Regions from separate parts of the Homo sapiens genome. Here all the other regions are reported to be linked to region 1. The links are microRNA targets in miRTarBase. Many come from high-throughput screens and were not tested one by one. Region 1 holds a microRNA gene; each other region holds the end of a gene's coding sequence. Distances are from middle to middle.
The links. Region 1 holds the annotated microRNA hsa-miR-944 (AAAUUAUUGUACAUCGGAUGAG, at 2,652-2,673, shown strand). A microRNA usually pairs through its seed, bases 2 to 8, with sites in the 3' UTR of a target mRNA and lowers its output. Matches are read on the target gene's strand: a 7mer-m8 pairs with bases 2 to 8, a 7mer-A1 pairs with bases 2 to 7 and ends in A, and an 8mer does both.

Region 2: miRTarBase lists MIX23 as a target of hsa-miR-944. Seed matches in the 3' UTR shown: 7mer-m8 at 727-733, 7mer-A1 at 737-743 and 7mer-m8 at 813-819.
Region 3: the mRNA of SHOC2 is a reported target of hsa-miR-944. Seed matches in the 3' UTR shown: 7mer-A1 at 2,235-2,241 and 7mer-A1 at 2,255-2,261.
Region 4: miRTarBase lists BTBD3 as a target of hsa-miR-944. Seed matches in the 3' UTR shown: 7mer-m8 at 701-707, 7mer-m8 at 1,048-1,054 and 7mer-A1 at 2,904-2,910.
Region 5: the mRNA of TSPAN13 is a reported target of hsa-miR-944. Seed matches in the 3' UTR shown: 7mer-A1 at 1,000-1,006 and 7mer-m8 at 1,395-1,401.

The regions. Positions count from the first base shown.
Region 1 is chr3:189,827,324-189,831,323 of GRCh38, forward strand. MIR944 (microRNA 944) reads left to right here and starts at 2,599; the gene lies at 2,599-2,686. All of the region lies in intron 4 of TP63 (tumor protein p63), which reads left to right.
Region 2 is chr3:122,356,060-122,360,424 of GRCh38, reverse strand. It overlaps MIX23 (mitochondrial matrix import factor 23), which reads left to right. Exons shown (of 5, transcript NM_001017928.4): 5 at 506-834. The coding sequence ends at 556. Among named protein-coding and RNA genes, the nearest start is that of MIX23, 25 kb to the left of the region's middle. RefSeq lists a silencer at 1,816-2,016.
Region 3 is chr10:111,011,027-111,015,391 of GRCh38, forward strand. It overlaps SHOC2 (SHOC2 leucine rich repeat scaffold protein), which reads left to right. Exons shown (of 9, transcript NM_007373.4): 9 at 584-2,639. The coding sequence ends at 792. Among named protein-coding and RNA genes, the nearest start is that of MIR548E, 24 kb to the left of the region's middle.
Region 4 is chr20:11,923,436-11,927,800 of GRCh38, forward strand. It overlaps BTBD3 (BTB domain containing 3), which reads left to right. Exons shown (of 4, transcript NM_014962.4): 4 at 1-3,160. The coding sequence ends at 231. Among named protein-coding and RNA genes, the nearest start is that of BTBD3-AS1, 7.0 kb to the left of the region's middle. RefSeq lists enhancers at 1,237-1,737, 1,738-2,238.
Region 5 is chr7:16,782,843-16,787,207 of GRCh38, forward strand. It overlaps TSPAN13 (tetraspanin 13), which reads left to right. Exons shown (of 6, transcript NM_014399.4): 6 at 575-1,694. The coding sequence ends at 649. Among named protein-coding and RNA genes, the nearest start is that of AGR2, 20 kb to the right of the region's middle.

The DNA of each region.
Region 1 (4,000 bases):
TAGATGAACACTTGCCTTGTGATACCCACCCCCCACCAGCTCCCCCTTACAGACACGTACTCAGGAGTTCAGAGGCAGTAGCTTTGACCTTTCATCTCTGGGTCTTAGTGCTGGCACATATAATGGGTCTTAACAAATATTTTTCAGGTAATACCTATTACCTAAACAAAGTGGAATGTAGTACAGAAAACTGATTTTGCTAGTTTCACAGAAAACTTTGCATTTAAAGTTGGGCCTTCAAGGATAAGCAAAGTCTTGGGAAAAATAAGAATAGATATTCCAGGTAGAGGGACCAGGGTAAGTAAAGGCATGGAGACATGAATGTGTTATGTAAGTCTAGGAGTGGGAAGCAGTTTGGTATACCTGGACCATAGAAAGTTTGCAGGAACAGGAGTAGCAGGAAATGAGGCTAGAGAGAAGTCCACAGAGCCAGATTGAGATGGGCTGTGAATACCACCCTAAGGAGTTTGGCTCTAGTCCTGCAAGTGTTAAGAAAACATGGAAGGGCTGTGAGTTGGGAGATGACATCATGTTCTGTTGGAGGAAGCTAACTGGCAGCAGTTTGGAGGTAGGGAGACTAAAAGCAGGGAGGCTAATTGGAAAGGTGTTGCAATATTTTAGATAAGAGATATGGGGGCCAGGTGCAATGGCTCATGCCTGTAATCCCAGCACTTTGGGAGGCCGAGGCTGGTGGATCACCTGAGGTCTGGAGTTCAAGACCAGCCTGGCTGATATGATGAAACCCTTTCTCTACTAAAAATACAAAAATTAGCTGGGCTAGGTGGTGGGCGCCTGTAGTCCCAGCTACTCGGGAAGCCGAGGCAGGATAATTGCTTGAACCCAGGAGGCAGAGGTTGCAGTGAGCTGAGATCGTGCCGCTGTGCTCCAGCCTGGGCAACAGAGCGAGACTCCATCTCAAAACAAGCAAAAAAAAAAAAAAGAGAGAGAGATACGGAGATATGGGCAGGCAAAGGGGAAAGGAGGTGAGTGTGGGGTTTGGGGTGGTTTTGCAGTATATATTTTAGAGATAGAAACCTATTTTCCGTAATTGGGATTATTTTGACTCCTACCATTGTAACATTTTCTAGACATTGGTTTTAGAGGTACTTCTTATAAGGACTGTACCAAGAAACTAGTTGAATGATATATTCCTCAAGGTTTGGGGCCTTTTTGGTGCCATGCTTTGCTTTCTTTAGTTAGGATTAGTCTTGGCTATTTATCCTTCTGCTTTGACTATGAGAAGAACCACATACCTGTAATTGGTCAGACAAAAGAACATTTTATATTCTCTATGTCTCTGCCTTGCACTAGAAATGTTTGGGTAAAAAATTTATTGGTTTAAGAAGGAAGAAATGTGCCCAAATAGCCAATGATTGGCTTGATGGCTTTGGCTAGGCCGTTTTGCTGCTTTGAGCTTCAGTTTTCTTATCTGTAAAAGAAACATATTGAGCTAAATCTTGATATCTTTTTCCTATTTCTTAACGTGGTATGGAAGTTAACACTTTCGTCCTTTTACTGAATGAAAATAATCTAATAGTAGCTTAAAGAAAACGGAAGCATCTTTCACTTCAGTGTTTTGAGCGTAATGAAATGAATGCTATTATTATAAATAGCAGTACCATTTTACAAAATCAGAAGCTAGGAAAATGTATTTGGCCTTTGACTCGTGGTTGGTCCTCAGTGAATGTTCAGTGAATAGAATTATAAAATCTCTTTGTTCTTTTTTGCTGAGTACTAAAGACCATAAATTTATTACAGATGATATTTACTGATAATAAAGTACTTTTATTTTTACTGGTACCCAAAGAAGGATTCAAAAATCTTGGCAGATACCATATTACCAAATCTAACTATAGGAGCTGGACCAAGAGAGAAGACTCTGTAAATCACCTGTCTACAGACCCAAGACCCAACCATCTTAAAAGAGGATTCAGGAAATCATTTAAATGTTTCTTCCTGCTTTCATGCCTTGAACATGCTGTTTCTGAGCAATACACTACAGAGATTGCCCTAATTGACACTAAATATGAGTTTTAAGCATTTATTCTGAAAACTAGACCCATGTAAACAAGTTAGCATCCAACTATCAATTCTTAGAAAATCTACTTTCCCTATATGTCTACTGGATTATTTGTCTCAGATCTTAGGGGAGGAAGTGGAAGAGCTGGAGAACAGCACGTGTTATTTTAGAGTTATAACTGGAAGTATTTGGAATGGCTTCTATGAAAGTTTATTTCACTGAAAATGTGGAAACAGCTTTGGAACTAAGGAATGGGCAGAGACTAGATTTGGAGGAGCAGGGTACTAAAAGCCTAGAGTCTGGCGAGGACTTAGAAGAGAAAAAGATTCTGGAAAGTTTGGAGCTCTTAAAGAAAAATAAAAATTTACTTCACTTCTAACTATTTGGTTGGTGCAAAAATAATTGCAGGTTTTGCCATTACTTTTTCACCAACTAACAAATTCAGTTTCAAAGATTTCTATACTGCTGACAGTTTTTTTCAAATATTAGCCCTTTTAATTATTTCATTACCAGACCAATATAACCTTAATTTTTTTCAACCAAGATAAACAATTTTTCTGCAGTAAATTTGTATTTATGTTCCAGACACATCTCATCTGATATACAATATTTTCTTAAATTGTATAAAGAGAAATTATTGTACATCGGATGAGCTGTGTCTGGGATTAAGTATTAGCTCCACTGTAACCTTCATTTTCTTGAACACTGGAAAGAAAGGCCAACGGTCATTTAGTAGGGTTGGAATAGGATGGGGAATGGGGCTTTGGTGAGAGAGCATTGGACTGTTGGTTATAGAAACACAGTTCAAGTATATCTGGAGTTCAGATTTGAGATCTGACTAGGAGAATCTGTCTAGTGAAAAAAGCTAGACCTTTACAAATTGTAGTCAGGAGCTACCGTTGTAACAGTCTGCCAGAGTTCCTGATACAAAAGATTGATAATTTGTGTGTTTGAAAAACAAAACAAAACAAAACACATCTACCTTCAATTTGACTTACTGCAACTCTGATTTTCATGGCAAGGGATAGAGACAAAATTCATTCTATAAAATTTGAAAAAAAATGTATATCCTGAAACCATTGGAAATTGGATATCAGCATTAATTTTATTGGACTGAAAAACCTCCAGTTTACTAACAGGAGTTGAAAGTCATCACTTTTCCTTTCATCATAGTGAGTTTTCATCACAAACCACAATGATATGCTTATCTCAAATATATTCATTTACTTGTTTTACACAAGTATCATTTCTGTTTACATAACACGCAATTTTGTTGCTGCTGCTGTTGTTTTATTATGCCTGTCACTTGAGTAAAAGATGGATAAGGTAAGGTCTCCATTTAGAAATGTATAGTCTCTTGGCAGGGAAGACAAATAAAGGCCCATAATTATCATAACAGAAAAATTAATATGTGACGCAAGAAAAAATAAAGATACTATTAAATTTCTTTGGGACTTTGAAGGAGGAAGGGAGCATATAGACACTTAGTAAATATTGTTTGAAGAAGGGAATGAATATGTAAAGGGAGAATAAACCTCACCTATAAGGTCTAGGGCAATTTAAACACAAAGGAGTTGTGTAGGATTATTTAAGGTTTGCAAATGTGTAAAATTATCTCACTACAATACTAGGGAAATGGAAAAACACCAAAGTTCCTCTACCAGCTTTTGCTGGATGAGATGGGCCAGAAGTAGTAACTGCGAGGGCAGCCTGTATTTCTGTTGTTGGTGTGGTTTATCTTCCCAGTGCCAATGCTGCCAACTTCCCCTCAAATAAAAACCCATAGGGGTTCAGAGTCTCATGAGGTGAGAACAGACTTGCACTATCTGTGACAACAACAAAAGCACTTATAATTTTGATGTGGAGGATCCTAATTGAAATCTGCTGTTTGAGGTTCCTTGGGTCCTGCATTCTTTCTTAAATATTTCTACTTGAGTTGGTTATTGATCCTTATTTATTTTCCGTCTAATCGATTGACTT
Region 2 (4,365 bases), 67 Mb from region 1:
TACTATTCACACTTTTTTTTCCCTTGATAATCTTGGAGATCTTTTTAAATCAGAACATAAATTATTTTTAACCTTGCATGTATTCCATTGAATAACCATACCAAATTTTTATTTAACACAGTTCCATGTGGACATTTAGTTATTGAGCATTCTTTATTTAACTTATTTTAGATATTTTTGTGTTGTTGTTTAAAAAATGTCCAGAATATGAAATTGAAATGTTTGCTAGTAACTAAATTACCTGGCTCTTGATGATTTTTTCCCGAAGTAACTTAAATTTTATTAAAATACTAGAATTGTCTTGTAAATGGATGTCAAGGCCTTCTGTGCATTTGGCACCTCATAAGTCAGTTTGAACTGCTGAGGAAACTCTTCTGTTTCCTAAATCTGTTGACTTAGGACAAAAATGGTAATAGCCTTTTGGAGCCTACTAAATTGAATTTAGTTCCAGGCCTGATTTACGCAGGATAACTCAATGACTTTTGTTTCTGTTTCAATATTTTAGGTGTTTAATGAACGCTGCCGAATTCACTTCAAGCCTCCAAAGAATGAATAAAGAGAGATTCTTTTTTTTTTTTTTTTTTTTTTTTTTTTAAGGACTGGGTCATCTCATAAGAGCTAAGCATGACAGATATCAACAGGGCGGGCTTTCTAGGATGATTTCTGAGCCAACAGTCCAAGACCTTTTGTTGATTTCAGCCCCACTTAGCCAAGACCTCAAGTATAAATAATTCTGATAATTATGGAGAAATCAACTGCTATTTTATACTGATTCTGTAAAAAAAAAAAAAAAAAATTTTTGTAACTATTAAAATAATTTTCTGACTCAGTGTACATATTTATTTGATTGTTTTCTATGTTGAGACAGTTCTCTTTTTATTTATTTATTGAATTTTTAGTTTCTATTTTTTTAATATCCTGTCAGGTTGCAAGACAGTTCTCATAAGATAATTTGCATGCACTTTCAATATCTGATTTGTAGTGTATTTTTTAATTTTTATAAATTTATTGGCATGGATGTGGACCTTTTTGGTTATTGATAAGTTTATTCCTTGATTTATCTTTGTGGGTTGATTATAAAAGGGCAGTATTATAAGCTGGACAATGCCCAAAGAAGTTTTCTTTTAGTACCTTAACTGATCTTATTTTCAGATATAAAAACTAATTTTTGGTGGAATTCTTTCCTGGACAGTATTTCCATGGTCATGGAAAAGGAAAGCAGAAATTCAGGAAAGGGAAGAGCAGGGAAGAGCTTGCATGACAGCAAATGAGTTAGTAACAAACCTGCTGTAATTACAGGATTTGGTCCTTGCAAAAAAAACCACTTTCTAGTGTATGGAGTGGTTATGTTACTAGTTTTCTGTTGCTGCTTAACAAATTACCACAAACAGTATCTTACAGTTCTGTAGGCCAGATGGGCAGATTTGACTGGAATTTTTTTTGTTTAGGGTCTCAAAGCTGAAATCAAGCTGAGTCCCAGGCTGGGCTTTGGTCTGGAGTCTAGGGGAAGAGTCTGCTGCTAAGCTCATTGAGTTGCCAGATTGTTGCATCGTGGTCCTGAGGTCCCCATTTCCTTGCTGACTGTCAGGTACCACTCTCAGCTCCAGGAAGCTACCCACATTTCTTGACACATGGCTCCTTCCATCTTTAAGCTGGGCGTGGTGCATTCAGTTCTTCTCATACTTGGAATCTATCTGACTTCCCTTTCTGCTACAAACCAGACAAAATGATTTTAAAGGGCTTGTGTGATTAGGCCTACCACATCTTTTTGCTTGACTCAAAGTCAACTGATGAGAATCATAATTACATCTGTAAATCTCTTGCCAGATTATGTAATAACCACAGACACCAAGTTTCATGGTCTGAGGGATATCTTGGGGAGCCAATTTAGGACTCTGCCCACCACAGTGATTTAAACAAGCCACCTGGCTCTGGCCCAGTTAGATTAGCCAGCTGGGTCTCTGGTGGGCCTGTGTACATTGACCACCATCAGATTATGCATTTGGAAATGAGTGATAAAGATATAAAGTGCCCACCATTCTTTCAACAAAACGTAGAGCACTTACTGTAGGTCAGACACTTTTTGTGGAGATTATAATCTAGTCTCAACAAAAATTTCCTAGAGGTCTGCAGTAAAAAATGCCTTTATATATAAAGTTGAGTAAGTAATTTTTGGGTAGATAAGTGAGTTGAAAGGATGGATGCAAGAATAGAAAGACAAAGATCTCCCTGATTCTGCTGCTCAGGAGGGAATTCAGATCCTTGGAAAGGATTCATTAACAGTCTTTCCAGATTTTCAGGTCTGCCAAAATACCATCTAGCTAATCCAATTATGTTAGTAGAGTGCCTGAATCATTCCAGTGTAACATATGAAAAATGTGCAATGACGGCAGCATGGAGTGACAGTATAAATGAATAGGTTTAGTGTGATGAATGGCATTTAGAGCCTCAACTAATGAAGGAAGATGGATGACATTGCTTTTGAAAGTTGATTTGCCTGCTGGAAAAGGGTCCTGTGTGTAATTACTGCCTTAGAACAATTTGTTGATTTGCTTTTGTTGCCTGAAAGGTAGGATTCAGCAACTCACACACACAGAAAAGAAGTAGAAGGTGCGAAAATTCACAGATGAGTTTGGCCCTTCCTTGGCAGAACAGAAGACAGCCATACGAAGAAACACCTATGATGATACATTTGCAAATTCTTTTAACAAATATTTAAATGCCTTCCTGGGCACTATTAACCACTATTGTTGCATCACTCAGCAAAACAAAAATACCTGGTTTTAAAGAGCTTATATTTGGTGAAGGAAGACAGTAGTAAGTTATATGGTATGCTAAAATGTGATAAAGTTCTATGAAAAAAAATAGAGAAGGAAATCAGGAATGGGATGGAGAGTGGGTTGCAAATGACTGTTTTCAGCTGACTGGAAAATATAATGCCCTTGTCTTTGAAAAGTTGCTTTAACTTGAGATTGAAATGTACCAAGTAAGTGCAGTAATAAAAAGGGTGTTTTCTAATATGTCATTCTTTTATAAGTTGTTCTCCGAACTACATGTGGTGGTTCATGTCTGCAATCCCAGTACTTTGGGAGGCTGAGTCGGAAGGATCAAGAGCCCAGGAGTTCGAGACCAGCCCAGGCAACACAGTGAGACCCAGTCTCTTAAAAAAAATTTTTAAATGGTGCTTGTCTGTAGTTCCAGCTACTCATGAGGCTGAGACGGGAAGATCTCTTGAACCCAGGAGGTTGAGGCTCCAGTGAACTATGATTGTGCCACTGCCTTCCAGCCTTGGTGGCAGAGCAAGATCCTGTTTTAATAATAAGTTGTACACTGAAGATACCAGTTTGGGAAATGTAGTGATAATGTACCCAGTGCTGCTATAGTAGTCCCTGCTAATGTGCCAGTGTCCAGGAGTGATAAACTTGTCATCTTGTAAAATGGGAGATTAATCAAATGTGTGAGCCCTTTTTAAATCAAGAAAAATGAACATTCTATCTAGAGTTAGGTGATCTAATCAAACATATTAGAGATTACTTAGGTTACTCATGATTTCTGTGTGTATTTAGGCTTGTAGAGTACCCTTGATGAACTTGATTGACCCTTAAAAAAGAATCTTTATTATTGAGCATAAACATTGAAGAATAAAGAAGATAGAAAGTGACCACTCCTGATTGGGGTAGCATTTCCAGGACAAGCCTGATTTTATCCCACAGAATTACGTTGGGAAGGAAATTCCCAACCTCTAAAGAGGTTTAGACAAACATGGCTTCCAGCTTCTGAATGCAATGGCCAGCTGGGGGCACCCCTGTCCAAGGGAAGAGGACTTGGCTGAGGTGCATTTGTGTATCTCCTGGTGCATTAAGAAGGGATAGGTAATCTACTGGCACTTAAAGATAATTGCTGTGATTGAATGATTTTCCCACTCCAGTTTTAAAAACCAGCAAGCAAAATTTCTCCTGCTTAAAAGCCCCCAGTGGCTGGCCGGGCGCAGTGGCTTACGCCTGTAATCCCAGCACTTTGGGAGGCCAAGGTGGGTGGATCACTTGAGGTCAGGAGTTCAAGACCAGCCTGGCCAACATGGTGAAACCCAGTCTCTACTAAAAATACAAAAATTAGCTGGGCGTGGTGGCGGGCGCCTGTAATCCAAGCTACTCAGAGGGCTGAGGCAGGAGAATTGCTTAAACCCAGGAGGTGGAGGTTGCAGTGAGCTGAGATTGCGCCACTGCACTCCAGCCTGGGCGACAGATTTTTGACAGATTTGAGACTCTGTCTCAAAAAAAAAAAAAAAAAGCACCCCCAGTGGCTTCTTAGTGCCTTGAAGACAGGTACAAATTCCTTAAAGTGGCTTAGGAAGTCCATGCTCTG
Region 3 (4,365 bases), not on the chromosome of region 1:
ATTTTCCTAGAGAATACAAGTATCCTAAGAAAAAATTTTTAAAGGTCTACATAAGTCAGTTTTTGGCTTACTGCCATATATGTGATAACTCTTAGTGAAAGGTTCATATTAAGTAACAAATATTTTGCACATAAGAAATTTATTAATTTGAGAAAATGTTACATCTACAACAGAAAAGTGGTTATAGACATTGAATATATAATAAGCTCACCTTTGGAGTTTTAAAATATATATAAGTAAATGTTATATATGTGCCAAACTATCCCAAACAGAATCTCTGGAGATGGGGCATATGTATTTTCAAAAACCTCTCCAAGCTTGAAGACCTACCATAAAGGAGGAGGTTCTAATTTAGTTTGTATGAAGTGTGACCTGGACATATAGGAGTTTAAAAAGTCTTCCAAGTTGATTTGAATATGCAGCAAAATTTGAGATCCATGGTTGTAGAGTTTTAAAGCTAAGAAAGGAGAATAAAAGGAAATGTGTGTTCAGTATATGTAATGACCAGAACAGCATCATGCCCAGTTGAACTTTTAAAATAGCAACTAATTTTTAAAAAAAAATTGATTTTTTTTTTAAACAGGTACACTGGAGAACCTAGAAGAACTGTATTTGAATGACAACCCCAACCTGCATAGCCTTCCCTTTGAGCTGGCACTCTGCAGCAAGCTTTCAATCATGAGTATTGAGAACTGTCCACTCAGTCACCTTCCACCTCAGATTGTTGCTGGGGGGCCTTCTTTCATCATTCAGTTCTTAAAGATGCAGGGTCCATATCGTGCCATGGTCTGATATAAATCTGCTGGTCCCACACACTGTTCAAAAATAGACTGCCATTAATGTTTCTTATCTATATCTGTATCTATTTATGTAGATATTGGTATATGGCAGATTTATAAAAATTGCATTATGTGTTTCTGCTAATAGAGGAATCATAGCCATTTAGAATTTTTTTTAAATTCTGTACAAAAGGCTTATATAAGTTTTCTTTGCTGAATTTGATGGATGTTTTTCTGTTGTGTAATCTGATATGCCAGTTTGCTTAAAACATTTGCCAACACATTATGAAGTTATTAAATTTAAGGGACAGAGGTAGTATAGTTAGATATACTTTCTCTTAGGAAAAATAATGGGCAAAAATTTTTGTTGCAACTTTTCATATATATTTTCCCCTTACCAATTGTTTTATCCTTATAGTATTGTAGGCCCTGAAAGTAGAATTTTTCTTTAACTTATTTTGAGATTTGAGATTTAAATTTTATGTATTGTTTACAGTCAGAGTAAATCACTGGATTTCTTTTGTTTGTTTTGATTTGCTCTGTTTTATTCAGTCAAATCTAGAGTTTGAATCCTCTGCTAAAGAATTTGCATCCACTGGTGTAAACAGTGAAAGGTATTTGCTTGTTGAAAAAAAAAACTGGCAAAGTGAAAAGATACAGTCAAAAATCTAGAATTTCTTTAATTTTGCTTCTCTGACGAGTTGTGAAGCAAAATACCTGAAGTGAGTCTTTGGGTAGGGGAAGGGTATTGAGACCTTTTCTAGTATGAATATTTTTTAAGTTTGGGGGAAGAGAAACTTGCAGTGAAAAGGAGTTTTTTCATTCCTGAAAGTTGCAGATCCACAAAACTAACAGGATAATTGGGCAAATAAATTACATATAAACACACACAATCTATATATGTATATACAATGCTATATAGATATGTATTTATTATATCATAAACTACAGTAGGTAACTTTAAGGATTTCTTCCTATCCTTGTACAATGACATGAATGTCTTTCTTTGAAAACTGCAATGTATGTATGTTTCAAGGTTATTTAACAGTGTACTATGGTTTTATATCTTGACTTGCCTTGTACATCTTTCAATTCTGGAATATCTGTGTCTAAGCACAATATCTTCACACTGTGCTGTATTGCTGCTGAACTAAATGCACTTTTCCCCACATATGGGGCACTGGCTTCAAACAATTCAGTTCAGTATCATTACTTTTAATCTCATCTTTCCTTTCTTGGTAGTTGTTAATACAGTTATGGAAAAGAGGCACATTGCATAGAAGCCATTGGGGAGTTCAGTGGAAGTTCTGTAAGATGTGCATGTACTATTTGATGCGTTTTCTTTGCTTCACTGCTTTTAATACTTAGCAGTATTGTTGGTCTAAGTCAATTTGATTATTGAGGAGTCTCAGAGCAAGGTGCGTTCTAGATGTCATCCTAAAAAACACTTCATATATAATTAATCACTATTTTGTATAATTACATATTGCTGCTTGTGTGTTTTTTTTTTTTTCCATTTAGTTGGGCGTTGTGTTTTACACAAAACCATTTTTGAATTAAGGCTATGATATTAAGATAGAAATTTGGACTGTTGTTCTGCTTTTCCTGGCACTCAAATTCATGACTAGTTTTGAGGTCAAACCTATGTTCGTAATGAGAGATTTTATAAGGATCAACTAAGAAATGGAAGGCAGGTGAAGATATAAAACCCTAGAATGCTTAAATGTGCTGTAAAACTATTGTAGATGTCACTGGATTTTACCAAGTAATATCCTTTCTTTTTTTTTTCCCCCCATCTGCTGTGGCTTTTCAGTTAAAATTTTGTTTATAAAAGGAATTTGTTTATTACAGCTCTACCTAGAGCTTGTGTGTTTGTGTGGTTTTTTAAATCTCGTATCCAGGTGTGTTTATATATTAAGATGTTGGGACTTGAACTTTAAAGGTAGTAACTAAATGTCTTTTCTTAAAAAAAATGGTTATTGTTTCTTAAAATGAAAATATGGTTTTTAAAGCATTTTTGTTCCACCTTTATGTTAATCTGTAACAGTAATGTAAAACGATCAGTCTTACATGTAGAAGTCATGCTGTGTGTAAACAATATAATGACAAGTTATAAAAAATTTTAAAGAAGTATAAAATGTATATCCTCTGTAGGCTGTCACCTTGTGAGAGCCCACAAATTTCATTATTTCCCAAGAAACTAAAATGGACTCTGATTAAGATATCCCTGTGAAATCAAGATATTTAATATTTAAATAGTTTGAATATAATAAGGGATATTGTTGAAGACTACATATGAGCTAATACTTTTTCCTGAAACTGCAATGGGACTAATTGGCATATCCAAAAATTTTCCTTTCCTTTAAAGAAATTATATTTAGTCTCTCCATGAGACTCAGCAAATAAAATAAGAATGTCCGAGGATGTTACATTATAAAAACATTGCTCTAAACTTTGCTTTTTGTTAATATGTAGCAGAAAAATGGCAATGGTAATGCCAAGCTGTCCTTTTCTGAGTTTAATACTTTCTAAATCCCACATGATTATTTTATACAGAAAGGAGGAAGTGCTAAATAATTTATGAACTTTATAGATACAAGTGAAAACAGTAGATGATACAGGAAGGGAAAATACACATAAAACATTTATTTGTACTTAAAATGTAGGTATTGCAATGGGAATGATCTCTAAAAAATGTAATTGCAAATTTCTAATTTATCTAATTGTGTAGCTTGAATCATTTAAAATAGATAAGTTATTATACATTAAAATTTATCTAGATTTTCTGTAAATTTTTGTTATAACCTTTTGCTTTTCATCTGTTACTTCCTTTTTTTTTTTCCTTTTTTTTTTTGAAACAGAGTCTCGTTCTGTCACCCAGGCTGGAGTGCAGTGGCGTGATCTCAGCTCACTGCAACTTCCGCCTCCCGGGTTCAAGCGATTCTCCTGCCTCAGCCTCCAAAGTAGCTGGGACTATAGGTGCCTGCCACCACGGCCAGCTAATTTTTCGTATTTTTAGTAGAGATGAGGTTTTACCTTGTTAACCAGGATGGTCTTAATCTCCTGACCTCGTGGTCCGCCCACCTCAGCCTCTGAAAGTGCTGGGATTACAGGTGTGAGCCACCACGCCCAGCCTCATCTGTTATTGCTAAGCCATGTGTATTGAATCCAAATTTCACCTTGCAGAATTTATAATTGTTTATTAATAGGAATGTATAGTAACTAAGTATATAAAAGTAGACACTTCTGAAATGAAAAGGGGGCACTACCAATAGTTATATAGGGCCAACAGCACAACATTGGTCTCAGGAAATCAGAATATATGATCACTCTTGCATGATTAAAATTAGATAAAAGTGGATAGCATAATTCAAAATAAACTGGAGAAGTATACATTCCTGAAATCTATAAACTTTAAAATGAATTACTTGTGAGGAAAGATCTCCTTCTGCCTTGATCAGAGGATAAGATAGTGTATCAGATGTCTTAGCTAAAACTTATCTCTTGCCTTATTCTTTTGAGTAGTTTAGTCTTTAGGAGTCATTGGGAAACGCATGGCAATCTTTAGTTGATTATGTAATCTTGG
Region 4 (4,365 bases), not on the chromosome of region 1:
TCCAGCAATACCTTTCCCGTATGGTTTGAATACCCAGTGCAGATCGAGCCAGACACCTTCTACACAGCCAGTGTGATACTGGATGGCAATGAACTCAGCTACTTTGGACAAGAAGGCATGACAGAAGTTCAGTGTGGCAAAGTGACTGTCCAGTTTCAGTGCTCCTCAGATAGCACCAATGGCACTGGGGTACAGGGAGGGCAGATCCCTGAACTTATATTCTATGCTTGAAAACTCACTTCCTGAAGCAGCTTGAGCTCCAAAGTGCACATCTGGTTCCAACTTGCCTGATGCTTAGCTCATCTGCAAATATGTGATCAGTGCCGGTAATTTGTAATGAATGAAGCGGTAGGCAGGTTCTAATTTCTTTTAACCTTTTAATTATGTACAGGCAAAAATGCAGCATTCCGCTTTTAACTATCTGCTTAAAAGAGCTAACGTTCTTATTAAGGCTTTGTGGTTTTTAGAGTTGCATCTATGAACCTGGGGAGATTATGTGCTTTCCCAAGCGTTCCACCACCCTCTCAGTTTTGTCCCTCTGAAGATAATTTTGGATCACCTTGAATTTCCTTTTGGACGTTATTTGATGAACAGAAATAAAGTGATAACAAGAGTTATTTTTAAACAGAACTCCTCTTACCCCCCAAAACAGATAAACCTCAGTGTACAATTTTGAAAGAAGTTTTGCCTTGTAATGAGTAATAATTTAGAAAGTAGACAGTGGTTGTGTTTGGCTCTCGTTTTATTCCTTTTACATTTGTTGCTTCTGGGATTTAAAAAATTACTAAATTCATAAGATAGTTAGGTATTAAACACTTCAGAATATCAATGTAAAATTGGAAAATAAGGAACTGGGGGCATTTGTTTAGGCCATGACTTCTACAAGCAGATTTCTTTTCTTTTAGTTTAGAAGACAAAAAATTTCAATACAGATACTTCTTTTAGAAGTAAATTTTTAGATTTTATTGTCAGTAGAAAAAAGTTAAACTCCTACTAATTTAAACTAAGACAGTTTAAAAAGGAAGCCTGAAAAAGACTCATACTACAAATAATTTAATTGATGGCATATAAGAATATGCAGTTTGAAAAAGCCAAACTCTTCTCTCCACTTAGCTTTTGATCCCCACTGTTTGCTTATTTGTATAAGTCATACTGTGTAGAATTTCTATTTTCTTTTTCCCCATTAAAAGAGGACCAAACAATTCTTTATACAAATGGAGTAGCAACTAGTTTTGTAGCACTACATTTAATGTAATGAGATACCTTTGTTCATTTTTTTAAATTTGAAATATACTTTACCTGATCCACTTTGATTGTATACTATATTCTTTGTTAATTTTAATTTTGTCCTGTTCCTAGACTGCTAGAATCTGGCCCCTGGCCATCTTAAAGTGCCAACATATGCCTGCAGGGTTTATAAAAAATGGCCTGGAGTGACACATTTTATTATACCTAATATTCACTGCATCAGTATCACATCTAGCTCCCTTACTTGTCCACAGATAATGTAAACAAAGGAGGGAAAAACTTATTAAATTCTCCTTCGCTGCTGGCTTGTGCTGGTTTAGTGCCTGTGTCCCTGGCAGTGTCCAGTGTGTTCACTTCCAGTTGAAGTATCCATGTGTTTCTGGGCAGCTTTTCTGCTCAGTGTGATCCTGAGATGGCTTCCCCGCCGCCACCCAGAGTGTGGTCCTTGGCCGCCTCCTGCTCCTGCTCTGCAAGCCTGAAACTGGCTTGTCTGGAGCCAGGAGTTAGTCCTGGGGTGTGTGTGTGCCTGCGCACCCATGCGCATGCAAGTGTGTTTGCCAGCTCAGGAGCTGTCTCCTCTCTACCTGGCTAGTAAGAGGTGGGACAGTAATGGTCCTCCTGCTGGCCCCAGCAAGGCCCATGAGTGACTGCCCTGACGTATTCACTGTGCCTCTGGGCCACTTCTTCCCCTGTAGATGTGGGCTTGTTGCCTTCAGCCGGCTTCCCTGAGGGAGGAGAACACTGGATTATTGGAAATGTTTTAATCACTCTTGCCATTACCTACATCTATTAGCATAGATGATGAAAAGCTGTTACTGGTGATTATAGATGAGTATTTCCAGGACAACGTTCTAAAAGTACAATTATTTCTTATTGGGGAGATTACAGGTAGTTTGGCAAAGCATTGAAGTACAAAGGTACATTTTCAATTAAAAAGCACACTTCTACAAAAGATTTGGTTTTTAAATTATGGTTACACATTTCAGTAACTCATAGCTGCTGTGCAAATTGGTAGACCTTATAAGAAGGCACTTGTTTGTAAGCCAGAGAAGAAACTTTAATTGCATCCTATCAGATTGTTGAGGTGGGTGTGATAGTCTTCAGGTGCAGTGCGTTCATTCACTAACGCTCACTGTCAGTGCCCATGTTTGCTAGCTGCCTCCATGTGACTAGTGAGCTGCTGGTGAAAGTCGTGTGAAATCCTGTACACTGTGTATAGAATAATGTAATTTTATGTTAATTGTTATTACTTTAAAACATATCTACCATCTGATTGGCTGGTACCGAGAGCTGTGGGTAAAATTTGAAAATTGTATTTAGAATAAGAAATTTTACATTTTAAACCCTATTGTCCTTTATGCATTTTCAATGAAATGGAATGAAGGCTAATATGCTTGCTTTATTTACTTTTGTAATCTTGGATTTTGTAGCTTTTAAAACTAGAAACCATTGTTCTAACAAAGCAGGCAACTTTATTCTATAAACACAACTTTATTAAGCAGAATACACTGTAGATGCTTTTCCCCAACGTATCTGGCTGGCAGTCTTTGTCGTTGTTCATTCTGGGGATAAAGGGGAACTAGGCTAGCAGTTCTAATGTGACATTCTTTAAGCATATCTTAAAATAGTATTTAAGTAAATGGTCTAATTTCTACATAATTATTGCACTGAACTTTTTTGTTTATTAAGGTGTTTAAATAAGCTCAGCTAATTCAAGACACTGTAGCCACTTGTGCATCAGTGTGCTTGAATTTAGTAGCTTACAGCATTATTTATGAAGGAAAAAATACATAAATATGAAGTACCTCATGTTGAATGTTATTGTACTGTATTTTTAATGTAACAGTGCAGATCTTGTTAGACACATGAATGTGTATAATCATGTTAAATGCAAATAAAACTAGTTCATAGATTTGTTTTCCTTTAGTGCTTTTGTCACACCCTTGAGATAGTAAAAAATTCATGCTGGCACTTTTGATGCCCACTACGTTTTGCAGAGATGGTTTCGCAGAGGCATTTGTTAGCTAAGTGTTCAGATATCTTTGATCCCTAAAGAAGTAAAAATTTGAGGCAAAAGGATAACAGAACAATGAATGTGTTAATCACTTGCATTGTTCAAAGCCTGACTGTTAATGAGAGGGAATGAATGGATGCATTTATATTTCTATTATGGAATTCGTGGTTGGCCGGTATTCTGAAGCTATAGTTGCTCAAATGTCTGGATCTTCCTGTGCTAAGGGGGGTGTTGATACTGAATGACATCTGGCTTCTGATATGACCAATGCTGCTTTTTCCTTTGTTACAGTAGCTTAAGTCTAGGAATTTAAAAAATGGCACGTAAGAATTTTGAATATAGTTTTTATGTGCTCAACTAGTTTTCCATTATATTTCTTTATATCAAGTATTTATATACACACATCCACATAATCATACATAATTATGAACATACACTTCTTTTTTCTGCAGTTTCTGATGCTTTTCTACTGCAGTTTAGTGTGAAACCCTGTATATTTGCTTAACCGCTTCATCTACTCGGGATTCAGTTTCCATAGCATACTTGCCCAGAGGAGTTTTGGAATTACTCCAAAGAACAAAGGCACTGGAACTCCCCACTCTCATCAGTTTAATCACAGTTACAACCTGAGTTGTAAGATCTTTAATCCCGGAATGCCTTAGCCATTATCTCATCTTTGTTGCCACTTAATCCATATATGTTTATTTTCATTATTCCAAGACAATTGGGAACGATCCTCCTTCATTGTTGGGACTTGGGATCTACGTGTCGAGGAAAGTACACTGTCTTCTCAGTCGACTCTATAACTTGCCTGTGAAAGCCATGGGCTTACACTTGGAAGAAAACAGGAAGGAGAAAAGCATTTCTGAGGACCTAAACGGTATAAAATGTGGAGGCCAAAACAAGCAAGTTGCCCTGAAAACCTGTGGTTAAGTGTTTATTAGAGCAGGGTTTTGAGTGCCTTTGAGGTGCTTCGGTGAAGATGAACACACTTTGTGGATTCCTCGTTAGTACATTTCAACATTTTTATGGAGCCATTTACATTTATTGACCAACTATTCCCTTTGCTCTACACTTCCCTTATCCTCTTCTTTTCAGAGTAT
Region 5 (4,365 bases), not on the chromosome of region 1:
AGTTGCTTAACACAACACAAACTTATTGTCTTACAGTTTTGGAGATCAAAAGTTTAAAATAAAGGTACCTTCTGGAGGCCAGGCTCACCAGCCCTCCTTTTACATCTTCAAAGCTAGGAGAGTTGCAGCTTCTCTTTCTATTTCCCTTTACTTCTGCCATCACGGTGTCTTCTCTCCATGTTTCTGACTCTGTCCTTCCTGCCTCCGTCATATGTGTCCCCCTGTGATTATATCATTGAGCCCACCTGGGTAATAATCTCTTTATCTTGAGACCCTTAACCACACCCGCAAAGTCCCTGTTACTGTGTAAGGTAACATATTTGCAGGTCGTAGGGGTTAGGACATGGACATCCTTCAGGGCCAGTCATTCAGTTTACCACAGTGTTCGTTTTAATTTTTTCTCAGCGCCCGTCATTTGGTTTACTTCATTTCAAAAAGAAAAAAAATCTCTCCCCGTTGAACAAAAGATGCAAAGCGATTGAGAGGGTCCAAAGTTATTTTATTGATCAACTGAATAAATATACATAAATGTTACTTTCTTTTTCTTTACTTTATTTTTTTTTCCCCATTCCAGATCCTGGGTGTTTGGCTGACCTACAGATACAGGAACCAGAAAGACCCCCGCGCGAATCCTAGTGCATTCCTTTGATGAGAAAACAAGGAAGATTTCCTTTCGTATTATGATCTTGTTCACTTTCTGTAATTTTCTGTTAAGCTCCATTTGCCAGTTTAAGGAAGGAAACACTATCTGGAAAAGTACCTTATTGATAGTGGAATTATATATTTTTACTCTATGTTTCTCTACATGTTTTTTTCTTTCCGTTGCTGAAAAATATTTGAAACTTGTGGTCTCTGAAGCTCGGTGGCACCTGGAATTTACTGTATTCATTGTCGGGCACTGTCCACTGTGGCCTTTCTTAGCATTTTTACCTGCAGAAAAACTTTGTATGGTACCACTGTGTTGGTTATATGGTGAATCTGAACGTACATCTCACTGGTATAATTATATGTAGCACTGTGCTGTGTAGATAGTTCCTACTGGAAAAAGAGTGGAAATTTATTAAAATCAGAAAGTATGAGATCCTGTTATGTTAAGGGAAATCCAAATTCCCAATTTTTTTTGGTCTTTTTAGGAAAGATTGTTGTGGTAAAAAGTGTTAGTATAAAAATGATAATTTACTTGTAGTCTTTTATGATTACACCAATGTATTCTAGAAATAGTTATGTCTTAGGAAATTGTGGTTTAATTTTTGACTTTTACAGGTAAGTGCAAAGGAGAAGTGGTTTCATGAAATGTTCTAATGTATAATAACATTTACCTTCAGCCTCCATCAGAATGGAACGAGTTTTGAGTAATCAGGAAGTATATCTATATGATCTTGATATTGTTTTATAATAATTTGAAGTCTAAAAGACTGCATTTTTAAACAAGTTAGTATTAATGCGTTGGCCCACGTAGCAAAAAGATATTTGATTATCTTAAAAATTGTTAAATACCGTTTTCATGAAATTTCTCAGTATTGTAACAGCAACTTGTCAAACCTAAGCATATTTGAATATGATCTCCCATAATTTGAAATTGAAATCGTATTGTGTGGCTCTGTATATTCTGTTAAAAAATTAAAGGACAGAAACCTTTCTTTGTGTATGCATGTTTGAATTAAAAGAAAGTAATGGAAGAATTGATCGATGAATTAAGTGAGGTGGAATTCTTTTCTTTCTGCTTTAGCTTCTCTCTGTTGGACTTAGAGCTGGGTATTGCTATTTTAGTGTATAATCAAGCTGTGGAAATAAATTTCCAGCATTAATGTCTATTGGTAGTCATCCTCAAATCCTTTCTTGAAATGTTTCAGTGGCTAATATTATCTCCATGGTGAGAAAAAGTTTTTCTAAAAAGAGAAGCCATTAATATTTATTTGGGAAAAATATATACGTTCTTTCCCATTACGAAAAATTATTAATTTCTTGTTTTACATTCTAGGTAGCATGTGGTATTTTATTGTCTTACTAGGTTTTTAGACCGAGAGAGGGTAAATGGTTGATCTGTAGAGTTTTAGAGCATTTTGTAGGTTTGTCACTTCCGTGACTTTGCAACACTAGCTAATTTTCCAAGGAAACAGAATTGTGCCATTTTCACAATGTCCTATGAGCTCTGGGGTAGCCCTAACAGTGTCCCCACTTATACCATAAGATGGGATTATAAGTGACATATGAAGGGAGATTTTATTATTATTTTTTATTATTATACTTTAAGTTCTGTGATACAAATGCAGAATGTGCAGGTTGTTGTTACACAGGTACACATGTGCCATGGGGGTTTGCTGCACCTATTAACCTGCCATCGAGGTGGGAAGTTTTAAAATTCTGTCTTCCTTTAAGGCATTTGGCATTTTCCATGTTTGTTTTGTTACATTTTGAAATTATTATAAGGCCCTGGAATCTCCTAATGTAATACTTTCCTTGGTACAAATGATTATATGTGGAAAGGCTATTCCATAGAGAATCAGCCCTTACCTTGGTTTGTGCTCTAATTGCAGTGCCCTTATTTGGGTCAACACAGTATGCTTCATGCTGAAGTTAAATGATGCATCCTGGAAATTCTAACAAAGGAAGGTCTCTTCTTCTGTTCAAATATAGATTGACTGATGTCAGCCTTCCTCAAGTGTGTTACTTAAAAAGCAAAGTGCAAAGAGAACAGCTGTCAGGGTGAGAAGTCTAAACACATTTTTGAAAGTAGCCTGGTGCTGACAAAATGCATTTAATCGTGCTCAAGGCTTCATGAAATTGAGTTCATTAAATTAGGATTTTAAATCATTATGGCTAAGAAAAACATGTATATCTAAATATTAAATAAAACAAAATGTAAAGATATCTAAGATGTTAAGATTTTAGTAAAATAAGTTAATGAAAAAGAAAGCCAGGGTCTGGGAAGTATGAATATTTAGGACTACTAAACTATGGGATTATAAGAGTGGGTAATGACAGTTAGCCACTCAAGAAATACACATTTTCAAGCACCAAGGTTGTCCTTGTCAAATGAGTCTGGGCTTTCTGTTTTCTCTGGCAGATCTGAAGGTGATAGATTACCTAACACCTTCTGTGATGCTTCCTGGGATCTTTGTGTCGGGGTGCATATTTAGTGGAAAACCCTCTGAATAAGTCAGTCCTGAATCCCAGATGGCCCTGCTATGATCCTGCAAAGGTCATCCTGATCCCAGGATTAGAGAGGGCCACTGCCCAAGGGCACAGAAATGCTGCCATAAACACGTAGTGTCAGAGGAGGATGAGTTTCAGATCAGGGTAGACCCTAGATGTCCTTTCTTCCCAAACCTAGCATTTCTTTAAAAAGGAACTGTGCTGCTTAAAAAAATCTCTTCTCTATTTGCACATTCCATTTATAGGAATGTTTTTTGGCACATTTGCCCGGTCAGCCTTGATGTTAAGGGTTAAATTTTATATAGAGAATATAATACTAATACAAAGGAAGAAAGAGTTCAGCTATAATTTCTAAAATCTGAGCTTGTTGTAGCTTAAATTCATCTCAGATACTCTGTTATCTAAGCAACAATGTGTTTGGTATGAAAACCAGTTTCGCATGTTCAACCTAAGTTACATGCTGCTGAATGGAACCTTTCATAGAAGGAAAGGAAACCAGAAGTGTGGCTTTTAGTTCTTCGTTTCCTTGAGCCAAAACCTCCTCCTACAATTTTTCTAAATATTTGTTTAACTCTGTTAAAGTTTATTCATTATTTTGCAAATACACTAAATACGTCAAACTGTTTCAATTTTTAGCTGGTACTAAAAAAGTTAGAATCAAATTTTTCCATAGTATTTCATAGGAGAAAAACACTTTTAGTCACTGTGGTTGTACAGACATGATCATTCATGTGTGAATTGTTTTATTAGAGATGACAATAAAGTTAAAAACCAGCTTTTCCAGGGTTCTGGATAAGTGAAGGGATTGGTGTAAAGTTTTGTTCTGTATTTGGTACGTTTTGGACTAAAATAATTTTTAGACCAGGCTTTCTGTGCCAAATGAAATTACAATATGTGTTAGTGAATGTGTTCTAAATAAATTTAAGAGTGCAATCCACCCTTTCCCCAACACCTCCACTCCACGAGAAGAGGAGAGGGAGAGAAGGGAACGGGGCTTGTCATGTGGATGTTTTTCTTAAATGTCATAACTGAGCAATTGTAGTCATTGAAATACCTCTTGAAAATATGAGAAAGGGGAAAATCAAACTCTGCCATGTGGCAGGCCAATTCTCATCACTCTCCTTAGGAAAACCAGCTTTTGGAATTCATTTTCAAATGAGGATTTGAGGCCTGTGAGTTAAAATATATGTCAAAGAATGGACTTTGACA